Linked DNA regions of Homo sapiens: region 1 is linked to region 2. The links come from fine-mapping of genetic effects on gene expression. Tissue or cell type: thyroid. Region 2 holds a variant in brackets; the other region holds the start of a gene. All regions are shown on one strand. Distances are from middle to middle.

The links. PIP is the estimated chance that this variant, and not a neighbour inherited with it, causes the effect.
Region 1: CCDC146 starts here. The variant in region 2 is fine-mapped to the expression of CCDC146 in thyroid (GTEx, PIP above 0.99).

What each region holds. Positions count from the first base shown.
Region 1 is chr7:77,118,363-77,126,469 of GRCh38, forward strand. It overlaps CCDC146 (coiled-coil domain containing 146), which reads left to right and starts at 4,253. Exons shown (of 19, transcript NM_020879.3): 1 at 4,253-4,370. It also overlaps the pseudogene FAM185BP. RefSeq lists enhancers at 3,042-3,543, 3,544-4,043 and a silencer at 3,939-4,038.
Region 2 is chr7:77,277,188-77,285,294 of GRCh38, forward strand. It overlaps CCDC146 (coiled-coil domain containing 146), which reads left to right. Exons shown (of 19, transcript NM_020879.3): 12 at 1,565-1,653; 13 at 1,750-1,914; 14 at 3,242-3,466; 15 at 5,370-5,598. LOC102723791 (a long non-coding RNA gene) reads right to left here and starts at 1,165. Exons shown (of 6, transcript XR_927688.3): 1 at 957-1,165; 2 at 327-388. The variant CTATG/C (reference allele first, on the strand shown) is at 3,963.

The DNA.
Region 1 (8,107 bases), 160 kb before region 2:
AAATTATTCTAACTAGTGTTTAGAAATCTAAAAATGAAAATATTTTGCAATTATGAAGCAAAGATGACTGACTTCAACAAAATTGCATGCTTTCAAAGTTCACAAAAGTATCAAGTTTTGACTATGCAAATGCAAGAAGCACTAAGAGTAACGATAAGCTAGCACCTATCAGAGAGGTATTTCAAACTATTTACAGCTAACACCAGTCTAATCTTTAAAAAATTAAATATAGGTCAGTCATGGTGACTCACACCTGTAATCCCAGCACTTCATGAGCCCAAGGCAGGAGGATCACTTGAGCCCATGAGTTCAAGACCAGCCTGGCGCAATACAGTGAGACCCTGTCTCTACAAAGAAAACACTAAAAAAAAAAAAAATTAATTACAGCCGGGCGCAGTGGCTCATGCCTGTAATCCTAGCACTTTGGGAGGCCAAGGCAGGCGGATCACGAGGTCAGGAGATCGAGACCAGCCTGGCCAACATGGTGAAACCCTGTCTCTACTAAATATACAAACATTAACTGAGTGTGGTGGTGCATGCCTGTAATCCCAGCTACTTGGGAGGCTGAGGCAGGAGAATTGCTTGTACCAGGGAGTCAGAGGTTGCAGTGAGCTGAGATTGCACCACTGCACTCCAGCCTGGTGACAGAGTAAGACTCCGTCTCAAAAAAAAAAAAAAATTTAATTACAAAACAAGATGAATCATATGTTACTTTGCACAAATAACTACTTAATCCTTAAGTAATGAGCTAGCTACCTGGTACATTAAAAATGTGATTAAAGTCATCTAATATTTAAGCACATTTATAGTGCACAAAGATTCTTCCTTACTCTTTAATAAAATGGAAGAAAATCATTTGTGGAAACTAAAATTTCTTTAGTAAGATTTCAGAATACTAGGAAAATACTATTAGTTTCACTGTACACTTTGAAATTAAATCAAAAAGAAATTTGAGGCAAAACCTCAAAACTGCTATAACCTCTGTACTTTACTAGAACTGATTTCAAGGCAAAATGTTTGCCAAGGACTTTCTGAGAGATGAATAAATGACAATGTTCTGAAAAACAGAAGAATCTCTTGAGTTTGATAGTACGATTCATAGCTTAAGGCTTTTAAAAAAATAATAGTGAAATAAAATTAGAAAAATGCTATACCTTAACAGACTGCAAGATGCTAGTCCCATGCTCTGTTTCAATTTTGCAATTATCACCCTCAATACTTTGAACTTCTACACAGCCAGACCCTGATGACTTGATATCTAAACCTAGAAGTAAAAAAAGAAAAAAGCAAGTTAGTACTGCAGTTTATAAGCTCCAAAGCATTTTAACCTAGAAACCCAACTCCTCAGTTATGTCCATAATATTGCTGAATCCTGGAAAGTGCATACTGTAAAGGTAAGGGGTCTTCTACCACGGCAACGGGACCAAATACAATAGCCTTTCTGCCCGTTTTTAGAAACAGAGCAGTTATTTCTACTGGCCTAAATCACCTAAAGAGAACTAACATAGATGGGAAGTAAAGGAGACTACGATTCTGTTAAGTACTCCTGTGAAAGACTGTAGAAGCCTCTTCCCCAGTATATATGATCATGACTTAGGTTTTCAAATCCTATGTCTAACCTTTCATACTTAAAAAATGAAAATATTACCATGCAACTATATCACAAGGTATTTGAAGTAATTTTTTAAAAATGGGAACAACTTTGAAAAACCTAATATATACTATTAAAACTACAAGATTAGGCCATGAGCCGTGGCTCATGCCTGTAATACCAGCACTTTGGGAGGCCGAGGAAGGAGGATTGCTTGAAGCCCAGGAGTTCAAGACCAGCCTGGACAATGTGGCAAAACTCCCTTTCTACAAAAAAACAAAAACATTAGCCAGGCATGGTAGCATGCACCTGTAGTCCCAGCTACTCAGGAGGCGGAGGCGAGAAGATTGCTTAAAACCGTGAAGTCAAGACTGCAGTGGGCCATGATTGTGCACCTGTACTCCAGCCTGCATGGCAGAGTGAGTGAGATGCAGTCTCAAAAAAAACCAAAACAAACAAACAAAAAACCCCACAAGATTGTGGACAAATGGCAGTGGTACATGAAGCAAGTTTGGAAAATAAGGAATTACAAATGCCATCCTTGGCTGTCTATTTAAGATGTAACTGCAGGCATCGCTGTATACAAATTTTAAAAATTAAAAACGCTGATATTTAATTTGGAATTAACATAAATATTGATGATTTCTCTTAAAGTAGGCAAGACCCGCCCCCCCGACTTGATTCCTGAAACCACAAATAGTACCAAATCCTATATATTCTATGTTTTTTCCTGTATACATATCAATGATCAAGTTTAATTTATAAACTAGGCATAGTAAGAGATGAACAACAATAATAATAAATACAGCAATTATAACAATATACTGTAATAAAAGTTATATTACTGTGATCTGTCAAAATATCTTAATATTTTCCTACAACAGTTGAGGCAGGTAACAAACTCAGACAGCCAAACGGTGGATAAGGGAGGACTACGGCATCTACTATTTGGGCAACTGTAAGCATTATAAAAGATGATCTTAAAAATGCTAAATGCTATTATTATTACCATCATCATCATCATCAATATCTTCCTTCAGTCCCAGGAAGAATGACAGTCTGGGGAGCCCTTCCTAGAAAAGTGTGTGTACACAGTGGCTTGCCATTTAGGAAAACCTAAGAAAGGTATCTTGCAGGCATTATTATTGAAGCTTCCTAGGCAGGCTTACCATGTGTTTTTCTTCAAAGCTTGCTACTCATGGAAAACTTAGGCCAAAAAGAATGGAAACATAACAGTAAGAAGCTGGGCGCCCGTCTAAAACCAAATACTCAAACCAGGTGGTACCTGGAACATCCTATTGACAGGGCTGTTTTGGGACACACCCCCAGGCTGTGAGCAAGGGGAAATGTAGATGGACTGCCATACCATTGAATGAATTGTCAAGAAACTTCAACCTTGAAAAATAAGCCAGTTTGCTAATGACAACGGGATAAAGAAGAACACAAGCGGCTCCAGAAATAGAATTTGACCTGGATTATACCAAATCGTGTTTCCATTCGATGTATAAAATTTCTATAATTGGGAACCTAATTTTTTAAATACTACTCGGATACTCAAGAATAGAACAGAGGAAAAGTTGCATTTCCGAAGGGGCCAACTGTAAATTAGGTTTAGAAAGCCAGGACCAATTAAAAGTGCACGTCGACCAAATTTATTAAGTTCACTGTGCGTTCCCTGGGACCCAAACCCGTTTTCACTTCACTTCACTTGCCAAACTTCAGGGGCGCGTTCACCTCCACGGACGCCTGGGGGTGGATAGTATCAGACACAATGGCCATCTCCTCCAGATCCTCGTCGTACTTCACCTGCAGGCCGTCCAGGCCCCGCACGCCGCCCTCCACGCCGCACACCGCGACCAGCACGCGGTCGCCATCCGGGTAGGTGAGGGGGTCCAGGGGCCTCACGGCCAGGTGGCACGGGAGCCGCGCCCGCAGCCGACCGAACGGGCTCACCTGCAGTGTCCACTCCTTCAGAGTTCGGCGCGCCGGGCCAGGCGGAGGGACCTCAGTCTCCGATCCGGGCCAGCGCTCGCCCCTACCTGAGCTGTACGGCCTGGCTTGGCAAGCCCAGCAAGACCAGCGCCCAGCGCCAGCCCACAGTCGGACCTGACGGAGACAGAGACGGAAGCAGCCAAGCTCCCAACCTGAACAGGGGGCAAGCATGGCGCGCCTCTCTCGCCAGTCCTCAGAACACTTCAGCCACAGGGAGGGTCACTTGCCACGGCCAATCGACTTGGCCACTGTGCCGCCTCAAGTCAAATAGGAGACGTAAGTCAGGGTTTGCTGAAACAAGAGCGAGCCGGTTGGCTTGACTAGGCGATGTAAACATCAGCTGCGTAATCCCCAGGGGCAAGTTGGGATTTGAAAGCTCTGAACTCTGACCTGGACCCCTTGCCTAAGTCCACCCCCTTTCGCTAAGGCCGACGGGATACGTAGTTCTAAAGCGGTGGAAAGTCGCAGAGCTCCGCCTCTTAGAAACCACATATCCCAGGAGGCAATGCGCAGGGGAGCACGGGTAAGAGGGCAGGTGTTAGAATCGCTGGAAAGGCGGGCGCCCTTTGTTTCAAGACCATTGGCTATTGGAGGGGCGGTACATGGGAGGCCACTGGCCAATGGGAAGCACGGAAGGGGGCAACGAGGGTAAAGCTGCATGGTCACCTTGGATACCAAGGACGCGACTTCTTGTTTGGAGAGGGTGGAGCTTTGGAGTGAGACCCAGGAGGCCAAATCCCAAAGAGAAAAATAGGAGCCTAAATAAGGATCAGGACCAAGGGAAGGGGTAAGAAACTGCGCTTTTTAAGTTGACAACTAGGTGCAAACTAGGAGTAACCTATGTGGATGTCAAGATCCAAGCTTCACTAACCTAGTGCGGGCATCTCCAGGGCATGGAGAATGCCTTGGTAAGAGAGTAAAGAGCAAGATTGGTGCTTTTTGAGGGAATTGCCTCTTTGGAAGTGTATTCCCTCCTATATTCCAAATATAGGAATAGAGTACTTGCTCCGTCCTGACCCTAAGTGACCTTACTTTGGGTTTTAATTTGCTCACTTTAAAAATGTAGATGATAATACCTTCCTTGCCTTGCCTCAAAGGGTTTTTGTGAGGATCAAGTAAGAAAATGGATGGGACCGTGGTGCACAGTCTACCAAATTACCGTGTAAAGTACTGTATTTTTATTTCAACGTACTTAACATTGATTCTGAGTTACCAAGAAAATTATGAGAGATCAGAACTTGTTTTGAGAATAGCATTGATCTCTTTGACTACAAATGATCATCAGTTTTAGAGTGAAAAAAAAAAAGACACAAAAAAGAGAGTCACCATGGTGCGGTGGAAAGAGCAGGGACAAGGGTCAGATTATTTTCCTGGCTCTGCCACTGCTTCATCTGTGTCACCTAGACCTGTTTCTTTAGTTTTAAAATGAAGAAAGATGGTTCTAAATGACCCTATAAGGTGTGTGTGTGTGTGTGTGTGTGTGTGTGTGTGTGTGTGTGTGTGTGTGTGTGTTTACCTTTTATAATTCTATGGGCAGTAAAATAATGGGAACAGAAAGATTTATTTTCTTCTTTTTTTCTTCTTTCCTGCCTGGTTTCTCTCTCCCCCTCTGTGCCCCTACTTCCTCCTAAAATGTATTCCCTAAATTATTTAGCCAAGACACCTGCAAACACTAACATTTCATAAAATGCAAGTGCCTTAAAAAATTGAAGCCCTTACCCAAGTACAATGACCAGAATTCTTGGGGCTATCGTGATAGATAGACTGGGCTAAAGTTCTCATGGGTACAAGTCTCAGGTTCTCTGCTAGCCACTACCTTTTTAAAATTTTTAAAAATTCAGTGTTCTCTTAAGTTATCATTGCCTCTTTTCTGTCCTTCTAGTCCTTGCTCCCTCCTTATTCTTCTTTCGGTGAAGACTCACTCATTATAGGTGCTAGCTCAGGTTCAGCAAGGGCCCACTGCAATAGTTCTTTTCTTGTCTTTGTGTTTCATTGGTTATAATTATTCAGAATAATCTTCAAACTATTTTTTATGAAAATTGACAGGTGTAACTTTGAAAAGAAATTTGAAAAAGGCACTGGTTTAAGGAAGTTGAGAATGTACTCAAATTTTCTGTAGAAACACTAGACATTTTTAGATTAAATATTAATTCTTAATAGTTAATTCTGTGTCTATGGTAATTTTTCCGTTTCTGAGACAAACTAAGTTAATGGAATTGGCAACTGAACTATAATTTTCTATGTTGCATAATCATTATTTTACTTTTTCAAACAAAAACCAAATAGAATTGACTGAAAATTTACTTTGCTGATCATACAAGGTTGAAAATGGAGAAAATTATTAATATTAAGATTGGTATAAAATAGTTAAAGTTATAGACACTTAAAAACAGTATAATGAGTATCAAATCTGTCCACATATCAACAATGATTAATAAAAGTTGTATCTTCCATCCATATGACATTATAATTGTCAAACCATGTTCACATGCGTCATCTCACTGTATCCTCACTAATTAGGAGGGAAATTATTCTCCTCACACTATAGATGGGGAAACAGATTCAGAAACATTAAGATTAAGCAATTAGAAGGTCTGGCCCTTTTATCACTCTACCAAAACGTCCATTTTCCTGACACCTTTGAAGAAAAAATGAAATTATTCACCTCATAAGTAGAAAATTATATACAACTTTTTTCTCCTTATTTAGAGTTTGTTTCTAAGATATTTTCACATCTTAGTTTAAAAAAGCTATTTCTGTGGTCATGAACATATACTTCTGGTAGGAGTGTTAAGTTAGCACAAAATTTTTAGAGTTCAATTCAGCAATAAGAATGAAAAGCTTTTTCTATGACTCAGAAATTGTGCTTTTGGGGATGTAAGCATAAAATTAGGGATGCTCAAGGAATTATGTTTTATAGGGTTACTTGTAAGAGAAAATAATTGCATCAATTTAAATGCTCCCTGGCCAGGTGCAGTGGCTCATGCCTGTAATTTCAGCACTTTGGGAGGCTGAGACAGGTGGATCACCTGAGGTCAGGAGTTCAGGACCAGCCTGGCCAACATGGTGAAACTCCATCTCTACTAAAAATTAAAAAAATTAGCTTGGCGTAGTGATGGACACCTGTAATCCCAGCTACTCAGGAGGCTGAGACAGGAGAATCACTTAAACACAGGAGGTAGAGGTTGCAGTGAGCCGAGATCACACCACTGCACTCCAGCCTGGGCGGCAAGAGTGAAACTCTGTCTCAATAAAAAAATGTTAAATGCTCCCAAATAAGACAGTATTACATAAATTAGTATATAGCTGATATATTATGCAACAATTTAAACATATCTTGATATGGGAAATAGTCCATATATAAAGTGAAAAGAATATATACAAAATTGCACGTATAGTATGATCTCAATTGTGTAATAATAATAATAAATTTAACATAAAATTATACTTTACAGAAACAATTCCAGAGGGATATATACCACTTGATAACAGTTGTTATCTTTAAGCAGTGATATGATGAGTGGTTACTGCAATTTTTTGTGTGTTATCAATAGTGAAAATATATTACATTTATAAGAAAACAATTTTAAAGCATTTCTTAGCATATATTGTTTCCTAAAACTGACTCAAATAATCAGATGGGCAGAAGATTTCTTACCATCTAGATATAAATGTCAACGAATATTTTATTTAATGATTTATGTTCAATAAATGGACAGCAGAGGTCATAAGAGAGTTTTCAGAAGAAAAGGTAACCAAAACAAAGAATTCAGCAATTTAGCTTAAGAGAAAAGCCATAAGAATTTAACTTTCTGAATTATAAACTATTTAAAAAGAGATATATCTTATGACTTCTATTATTCTTATGAAATATTAATAAACTCAACAATCTTAACTAATAACTATCAACATTGAGAAGTATTTAATGAATATATATAGGTACTAATTCTATTTGAAATCTCTATGTGAAACTGCAAATAGACAGTTTTATTTCTTCCTTTCTCATCTGTATGGCTTTTCTTTCCTAGTGTTATTGCACTGGCTAAGACCGCCACTACAATATTGAGTTGGAGTGGCAAAAGCAAAAATCCTTGATTTATTTCCTATTTATGAGGGAAATTTCAACAACAATTAGGAAGTTAGCAGTAGATTTTTAAAGATGCCCTTTAGCAAGTTAAGGAAGTTTACTTTCTAATTTGCTTAGACTTTTTATCATAAGTGAATGTTGCATTTTGTCAAATGCTTTTTCTGTATCTATGAAGATGATCATATTGTTTTTCTTCTGATTTATTGATATGTGTATTACAGTGATTGATTTTCAAGTGTTTCATTCCCTCAATAAGCTACATTTCATCATGTTATTGTCAGGGAGTTTTGGGTTGTCAATTTCCTGGCCAGAAACCTCTGTGGCCACAGCACCTTTGCCCGAATTCTTGTCCTGCATCCAGGAAGAATGAGGTACGCAGACAAGTGAAGGGTGAACGAGACGAAGATGAGCTTTATTAAGTGTTACAAGAGCTCAGA
Region 2 (8,107 bases):
GAAGATCCCACTCAAGTGAGTCTTTCCTAGTTAGAAACTTCCTCCCTTTTCTCTTTAGAAATTACAGAAACACCAGAGGTATACTTATTTGTTATAAGAAACACTGATCCGTTTTATGAATTAGATAATTTTCAATTAATTTCAAAAACTGATATACATGTATATCTATGTGTGACTAATCTATGTAAAGCAAACCTCATTATTAAATGAGCTAATTTGTATTAAACCAAAATAGACAATTCTTCTTGAGATACAGAAATTGATAAAGGACAAATGTTTATCCCTTGAGTATTTTTAGCATTAGGAATTAGTGTGTTAAACATTACCTGTACTTAGCTGCAGTTTCCATAAGAAGGCAATCTTTTATGTTCACATTGCATCCACATCCCTAAAGACAAAGGTGAAGAAAAAAAAACAATGTCACTATCACCCCTAAGACAGAATAGATGACACTACATTTTCCCATCTGTTTTATTATTCATGTGTACAGTTACTTAAATATTCGTTTCTTCCTGACCCCTATTCTCATGGAGAACAGCATTAGAAAAATGCTACACATCAATCTTGGCTCTATGGCTAGTTTCTTTCAAATCACTCATACCAAAAGGGCTTTGCTCTCAGTCCTTGAGAGAAGGCTGACAAACTCTTTCCTCTGGTTTACTACCAGCAAATCCTTCATTTTTGAATATGTTTCTTATCCCAGATGCAAGAACCAGTATCTTTTGATTTGAAGAACATAACTAGTGTATTTAGCACTTGATATATTTTTTAGAACTCTAGAAATATAACTGCTTTCTTTTAAAATATTTATGTGTAACACCTCCTTACAGCTGATCTCAATATGATGCCTTATTATGTAGGAAAACACCCCACATACAAAAGAATGGAAAGCACTTTAAAATCATTGCTTCAGTCTCTGACAAAACACCACAGAGGGTTCAGTTTATAACACTCACCAAAACTTACTAGGAATCCTCTTCTCTCATCTATTTTCCATAAACTACACTCACCCAGTCCAGCTGTGTGGTTCAAAATCACTCTTCCTCTCTCTCAAAAGTTGTCCAAACTTTTCCTCAAACCCAAGCCATGCAGGCTCTTTGCGTTTTCTCTTCTCTCGTTTGTTCTCTTCTTTAGGTAACAGTTAACAGTTTGTCTTAGCCAATGTGAATCAGTTCAGCTAGCCAGGGAATTTTCAGATCTCTTTTACCCTTCACCCTGATCTGTACAACCCAGCAAGCCAAGAAATAATTTTTTTTTTTTTTTTTTTTTTTTTGGAGAGACAGGATCTTACTTTGTCGCCCAGGCTGGAGCGGAGTGATGCAATCATGGCTCACTGCAGCCTCGAATTCTTGGGCTCGAGCGATCCTCCCACCTCAGCCTCCTGAGTAGCTGGGACTACAGGTGCACACCACCATACCCAGATAATTTTTTTATTTTTGTAGAGATGAGGTCTCACTATGTTGCCTAGGCTGGAGAATTGTCTTTAATGGAAGGGAATGATGTGGGATAAATCTGGGAGTGTTCATATGTTGTTATTTATTTCACATTTTTTTGTACATTTCAGCAAAAATACACCAACATTGTTAAAGAAATGAAAGCAAAGGATCTTGAAATCAGGATACACAAGAAGAAAAAATGTGAAATTTATCGGAGGTAAAGTAATTATGTGGTGTTTTATCTACGTAGGTGAGGGGAAAAAAACCTGATGTTCATTTCATAAGTTTCAGTAAACACTTTGTATTTTTACAGACTGAGAGAGTTTGCTAAACTGTATGACACCATTCGAAATGAAAGAAACAAATTTGTTAACTTACTCCACAAAGCTCATCAGAAAGTAAATGAAATAAAAGAAAGGCATAAAATGTCATTAAATGAACTTGAAATTCTGAGAAATAGTGCCGTTAGTCAAGAAAGGTAAGTGTTATAATAACTATTGGCCTTTCAAAGGCTTGTTTTCTGATTCATTTGAACTCTAAAAATCCTGGGGATAAGAAGATAGGAAAGAGGCAGAGGCTGCAATGAGCCAAGATGGTGCCACTGCCCTCCAGCCTGGGTGACAGAATGAGACCCTGTCTCAAAAAAATAATAAAAATAAAAAATAAAAAGAATAGTATTTTAGAAAGCCAGAATTAGAAATCCAGAAAAAGCCCTTGTTCAAACATCTTGTTTTATAGATGATAATCTACCATGCTTCTACTCTTTGGGAGTCATTTTTTTAATGAATGAAAAACCATAACATATAACTATGCTTACTATGATGATTTTCACCTGCCCAATTAGAAAGAAAAGCACAAATCTAATAATTGGGATTGGGAAGTTAGAAAACAATCAAATCGTTTGTTAACCAACATCCCCTGATTGTAGATGTAAAGCATCTCATGTGTTGTGGGAGGCAATACGTTATAGCAGATTGGTGAAAGAGGTGGTGTCCAGACTCAAATACCACCCCTCCCACTTATTACCTCTGTAACCTTGGACAAGCTGCTTTGTCTCTCTGAGCTCACTTTCCTTATCCATACCATATTTCATGCGACATTTTACTGTGAAATGAGCTAATTCATATAAAAACACTCAGAAAAGCGTCTGGCAAATGGTTGTTTTCTTCATTTATTATTTACCATGTGCCAAGATCTTCTGGACTCTTTCACCTATGTTAGTAAACAGTACACGATCAGGGTATAATCTAATTTTCTGATGGCCATTATTGCCCAGTTTCCTTCAACAAAGCAATTATAAAGTGGCCTCATTTCAGGGGTCGGGGGTGGATGAAAAGAAAAATATGATTTCCTAATCAGGTTCTCATCCAACTTGAAAATAAAATACATTTATAGAGGCCATGCATTCATTCAGCATTTATTGTGGCCACAGGCTGAGTCAGGCACCACCTTATGTCCAGTGGACATTATTGGATATAACCATCTCTGTCCTCAAGACAGCAGTCTCCTGAGAATGACAATAAATGAATGACTGCAGTCTCTCGCTTTGATAAAGGGGGTCAGCAGAACATTGGGGGGAAAAGGAAAGATGTTCTAATCTGGAGCAGAGAAAATCTGAGACCTGGAAGGATTATGAAAATTCCTGAAGAGTATCATAAGATGAATATCATTATTACTAGTATCATTTCAAGGGCTACACTAAAGCAAGGTCTGCTTTGATAGTGCTTGTGTTTCAGAAGCCTTCATTCCTTTTAAATAAACTAAAGAAAATTATAATCTTACCCATTGTCTTATTACTTTAAAAGAAAGCTACAAAATTCCATGCTGAAACACGCCAACAATGTTACCATCAGAGAGAGCATGCAAAACGATGTGCGCAAAATTGTATCAAAACTTCAGGAAATGAAAGAAAAGAAGGAAGCCCAGTTAAATAACATTGACAGACTTGCCAACACGATCACAATGATCGAAGAGGAGATGGTGCAGCTTCGCAAAAGATACGAAAAAGCTGTTCAGCATCGAAATGAAAGGTAAAAACCAGGTGTGAGAACAGAGCACCAGGGATCCAACTGAGGAATGTCACCTCTTTTTCTATCTAGACTTGACAGTGAATAGTGAGGGAAATGTGATATTCAGGTTGCATTAGCCTTTGGAGAGAAGGGACTGTGTGTTGCTTCCCTGGAAAATAAGAAACACTGTCCTCACGCTGGGCACAGTGGCATGATCCCAGCACTTTGGGAGGCCAAGGTGGGTGGATCACTTGAGCTCAGGAGTTCGAGACCAGCCTGGGCAATAGGGTGAAACCCCATCCCTACTAAAAATACAAGAAATTAGCCAGGTGTGGTGGTGGGGGCCTGTAATCCCAGCTACTTGGGAAGCTGCAGCACGAGAATCGCTTGAACCCGGGAGGCAGAGGTTGCAGTGAGCTGAGATCGTGCCACTGCACTATAGCCTGGGCAACAGAGCAAGACTCCGTCTCCAAAAACAAACAAAAAAAAAAAAAGAGAGAAAGAAAGAAATACCGTC[CTATG/C]TCATAAACAGGCAAAGAGGAGGGGTTTGGGAAAGTTGCTTGCTTTTGAAGATCAATGTCCTTTCCTAAGTGGTCATTCGGGTTGCCTCTTATAACATCAGATTCTTTCAGCATAATTGACATAAATAAGTGTGGAACTTGTACCCAATGTTGTGGTAAGTTTGGTCTTATTATATTTAGCCATTCTCCTAGTTCATTTGCTCAGCAAGTTAGTAAGACCTTTAGGAGTAGCATTATTTCTTCCAGGTTGCAGTTATATCATTAATCAATGTTTACTTCAGCAGTTTCTCCCAAGTTACTTGTGCTCTGAGAAATTGGAATGTGAAATTTGCAGAGCCCTGTGATAATGACATCTGGTATCAGATTTTTTTTAAGCAAACTTTGATTGTGTGCTATTCTGTATAAGGCATTAGAGTGCTAGACCTTGAGAGTACAAAAAAGTGGTAAAACATTGTTCCTGGCTTCTGTTGTCAAGAGAACTTGATCTTGAGCCTTTGAAAGGAAAACAGACAAAATATAGAGCTGGGATTAGCTGAGTACAACCACATGCATGCATGTTTTGAGGAAGGGGAGTCATAGATAGAAGCAATTAAAGGAGGAACTCTGAAATAATGTATATGCATAATGTGTGGGAAGACCTTTAGGGTCCTTTGAAGAACAGCACATTTTCAAAGGGCTGGTAGGTTTTTCTCCAGGGGAGAAAAAAAATGCTATTCAGCTCCTGGCACAAACCAAAGCGTTTGGACAAACAGTGTGCACCCAGGTGCCACTCAGATCAGTGGTGCATGATCGGTCATGCAGACCAGAGCTGCTGGGGTTAGAACATTCTTACTTTGTTTCCTCCCCATATTCTCCATTCAAGGAGGGGTCTTTCTCCTGGCATGATTACAAAGGATAGATTTTTGCCTGTTTATGGGGAAATCACAACCAGAAATATTCAACTTGAGAAGAAACTAATGGGCCTAGCAACTTAATATAGAGCAGACTCACACCAGAACTACATTCCCTGGCCCCCTGCCTGTGTGCTTCTGGCCAGGCCTTGGTTGGCAAGTCTGACCCGAGAAAAGGATCTGCAGAAAATCAGACTATGGGATCACTTTGTTTGTGCATTGGGAATGACATTCTTTCCCACCCCAGGAAAACCTTTGGGACTTTCAGAGACATTGTGGCTAGCCAACCACATGGTCAGCCTCAAAGTTGAGAGGCTCAGTAACCCTCCTATCCCTAGAGAATTCCAAAGTGTGGATGTAATTTAACTAGAAAGCCATTGGTGACTATCTGTGATCCTCTGGAAGTATGCTATGTTGTGTATATCTTGCATCCAAAGCCAGAGGGAACCACAATGACTAGTAAAACGGTGGTCTCAATGCCCACTTAGCCTCTGCCTCTGAATTTGACCATAGTGGCGTTCAGCTGATAGAGCGGGAAGAAGAAATATGCATTTTTTATGAAAAAATAAATATCCAAGAGAAGATGAAACTAAATGGAGAAATTGAAATACATCTACTGGAAGAAAAGATCCAATTCCTGAAAATGAAGATTGCTGAGAAGCAAAGACAAATTTGTGTGACCCAGAAATTACTGCCAGCCAAGAGGTCCCTGGATGCCGACCTAGCTGTGCTCCAAATTCAGGTGGGTGAGTGATCACGGGACACTTCCTCAGACCATTTATTTTTTTCTGCCTTTATTAGTTTGTGGGTGAGTTCTTGCATGTAAACCAAGCCATACTATTTCTGGGACCTATAAGAATCCATCCATCTTGTTTAAAAATACATTTGAATGCTACTCTAGGATGGAATCTGTGCTTCAGGCATCCAGGCTACACATTGTCTTTTTTTCTTATGAAGCATTTTCTGCTTTTCTTGGAATTTGAAGACTCCCAGGACTTATCTCTAGCTCAGCTTCCTCATAGCTCAAAATTTAGTGATCTAGACTCTCACTACCCTCAGCATAATTATGTCGTTGCTGCTTGCTGGACAGATCTTGAGGATGAGCCAGCACTCTTACTTTTGATACTCTGGCCCCCAGAGCAAGAGATTGTCTGGAGATTGTTGCTTATTAGTAGTTGTCAGTTACATATAACTTGATTCTTTATTAACCACTGTAGTTCTATGATAGCTTAGTAACCTGGCCTTTGACATGGCCTTTTTTAAAGTGGAATAGATCCAAAAAACTAAAACATGAAATAACAAAATAAATAAAATGTGAATATAAAGTTACTTTCTTCACATGTGTTACTTGGGGTTTATTCTTCATAGAATTTTTTTAAAAATTAAAATAAAAACTGTGTAGCCTAAACTTGTTCCCATTGACCAATGTAGCAGGAACAAATTCTAACCTATAATATTTTTTTTTAAATGTCAGGTTTGCGTTTGGATTTTTTTTCCTGATAAAAAGTTAAGACATTTGGTGAATGAAATTTTGTAAAAGTATAAAAATTATAAAGAAGAAAATAAAATTCTACTCCCAAGATATAATTGCTATTAAAATTATCAAAAATCTGGGAGACATCTTGTCATTTATTTTCTAGGTATACAAGTAAATGTTTTTCATTAGCTCATGCCCTAGACAGTTTTAGATCCCCCTTTTTTTTAATCATGTGAAGGGGATTCATAGGATTTCATGGGACTAGATGATAGATCTGCTTTCATATTTTATGCCATTTGAATGTGTATATGCTGTATAGATAATAGCCTCTTTCAGTTTGCACAAATATGCCAATGTTCTGATTCCAAGTTTGTTTGTTTTTTTAATTTAGCCTTGAGTTCTTCCACTCATTTCTTCAGTAAGTGTAGTCAGATTGAGATCGATTGGCTAGAAAGTCCCCCTAAACTCCCACAGGCCTCCCCAGGCTTCCTGTGGCTCTGACTCCTGCTTCCAACAAGGTTCATTTGAGGGATCACCCATCAGCCTGCACACACAGTGCCTGTGCCACTTCTGTGCCATGTCTGCAAAGGCACGGAACTCACCCCTTCCTCAGGCTACACCTACACAAGACCATTCAAGCGAGGCCTCTGTGGACAGACTTTATTAAAGATGTGGGGCAATGGTATGTGGGGTTACATTACAGAAATGCAAAGCACTTCAATTTGATATCAGATATCCATACTCTTCTTGGGGGCACTGGAGACGCTTCCCTGAGCACTAATACCTTGTACCACACCCTTGCCTAGCTCGATTTCACTGGCTTCTCTTTCACCTCCCCTCTCCCTCCACAGCCTCCTCATCCCAGATTGCCCCCAGGAACTCCATGCTTGCCCCCACTCCATTTTACAGAAGAATTTGTCTCTCTCCAGCTTTTTCCCAAAATGAAGATTTAGGTCCATCTTTGCCCATCCTAAACTATCAAGATGCAGAGCAACACAAAAGATCTTTAAATTCAATAAAATCTGCAACAGAATAATTTCCTCTCTATTGTATAAGCATATTCTTTGTGTTCACTGCAAATCAATACTTCCATTCAGTGGATAAAATTGTTCTTAGAAAAAAAATTGTCATTTTATTATATAAAACCTATTATCTAGTATGAAATGTAAATTCACTTTTACCCAAGAAGGAAATATTATGCATTTCATAACACTACACTCCCTGCCTGATGGTGAATTTTGATCATTTTGATTGCACATGAACTGAGACATGCAGACTGTGTTATCAGTTATCTGCTCTACCGGAGTGAATTCTGATTATCTGCTCAGCATCAATCATGTGTACCCTTGAAGGATATGATGTGAAATTTCTAGCTTCAGGCAAGCCATTTCTGTGCCCTGTTCTGCAGTGTCAGATCCCGGTCATATCCTGTCATTTTTTACAGCCACAGTGTCTTGGGGTTTGTTTTTTTTTTAAGTCTTCTCCCTTTTTTGCATCATTTTCAGAATTCTCTTAAGGTTTGCATTTTTTTCGGTCGTCCATAACAGTTTTTAATTGTCCAACAATCTAATCCAAGGATTATCATGAGTCTGTTCTCCTGGTTCCTATAATGATAGCTCAATTTTAGGAAGTTATATGAACTATTTTGGGACACAAGGACACTATTTTACATAGACAGAGTAAACAGTTTTTCCTCAAATGCCAAGGGAAAACTAAAATTGAGACATCCCTTTATAAGCAAGCACTATATTTTTGTTTCTTATTTAGTTTCCTA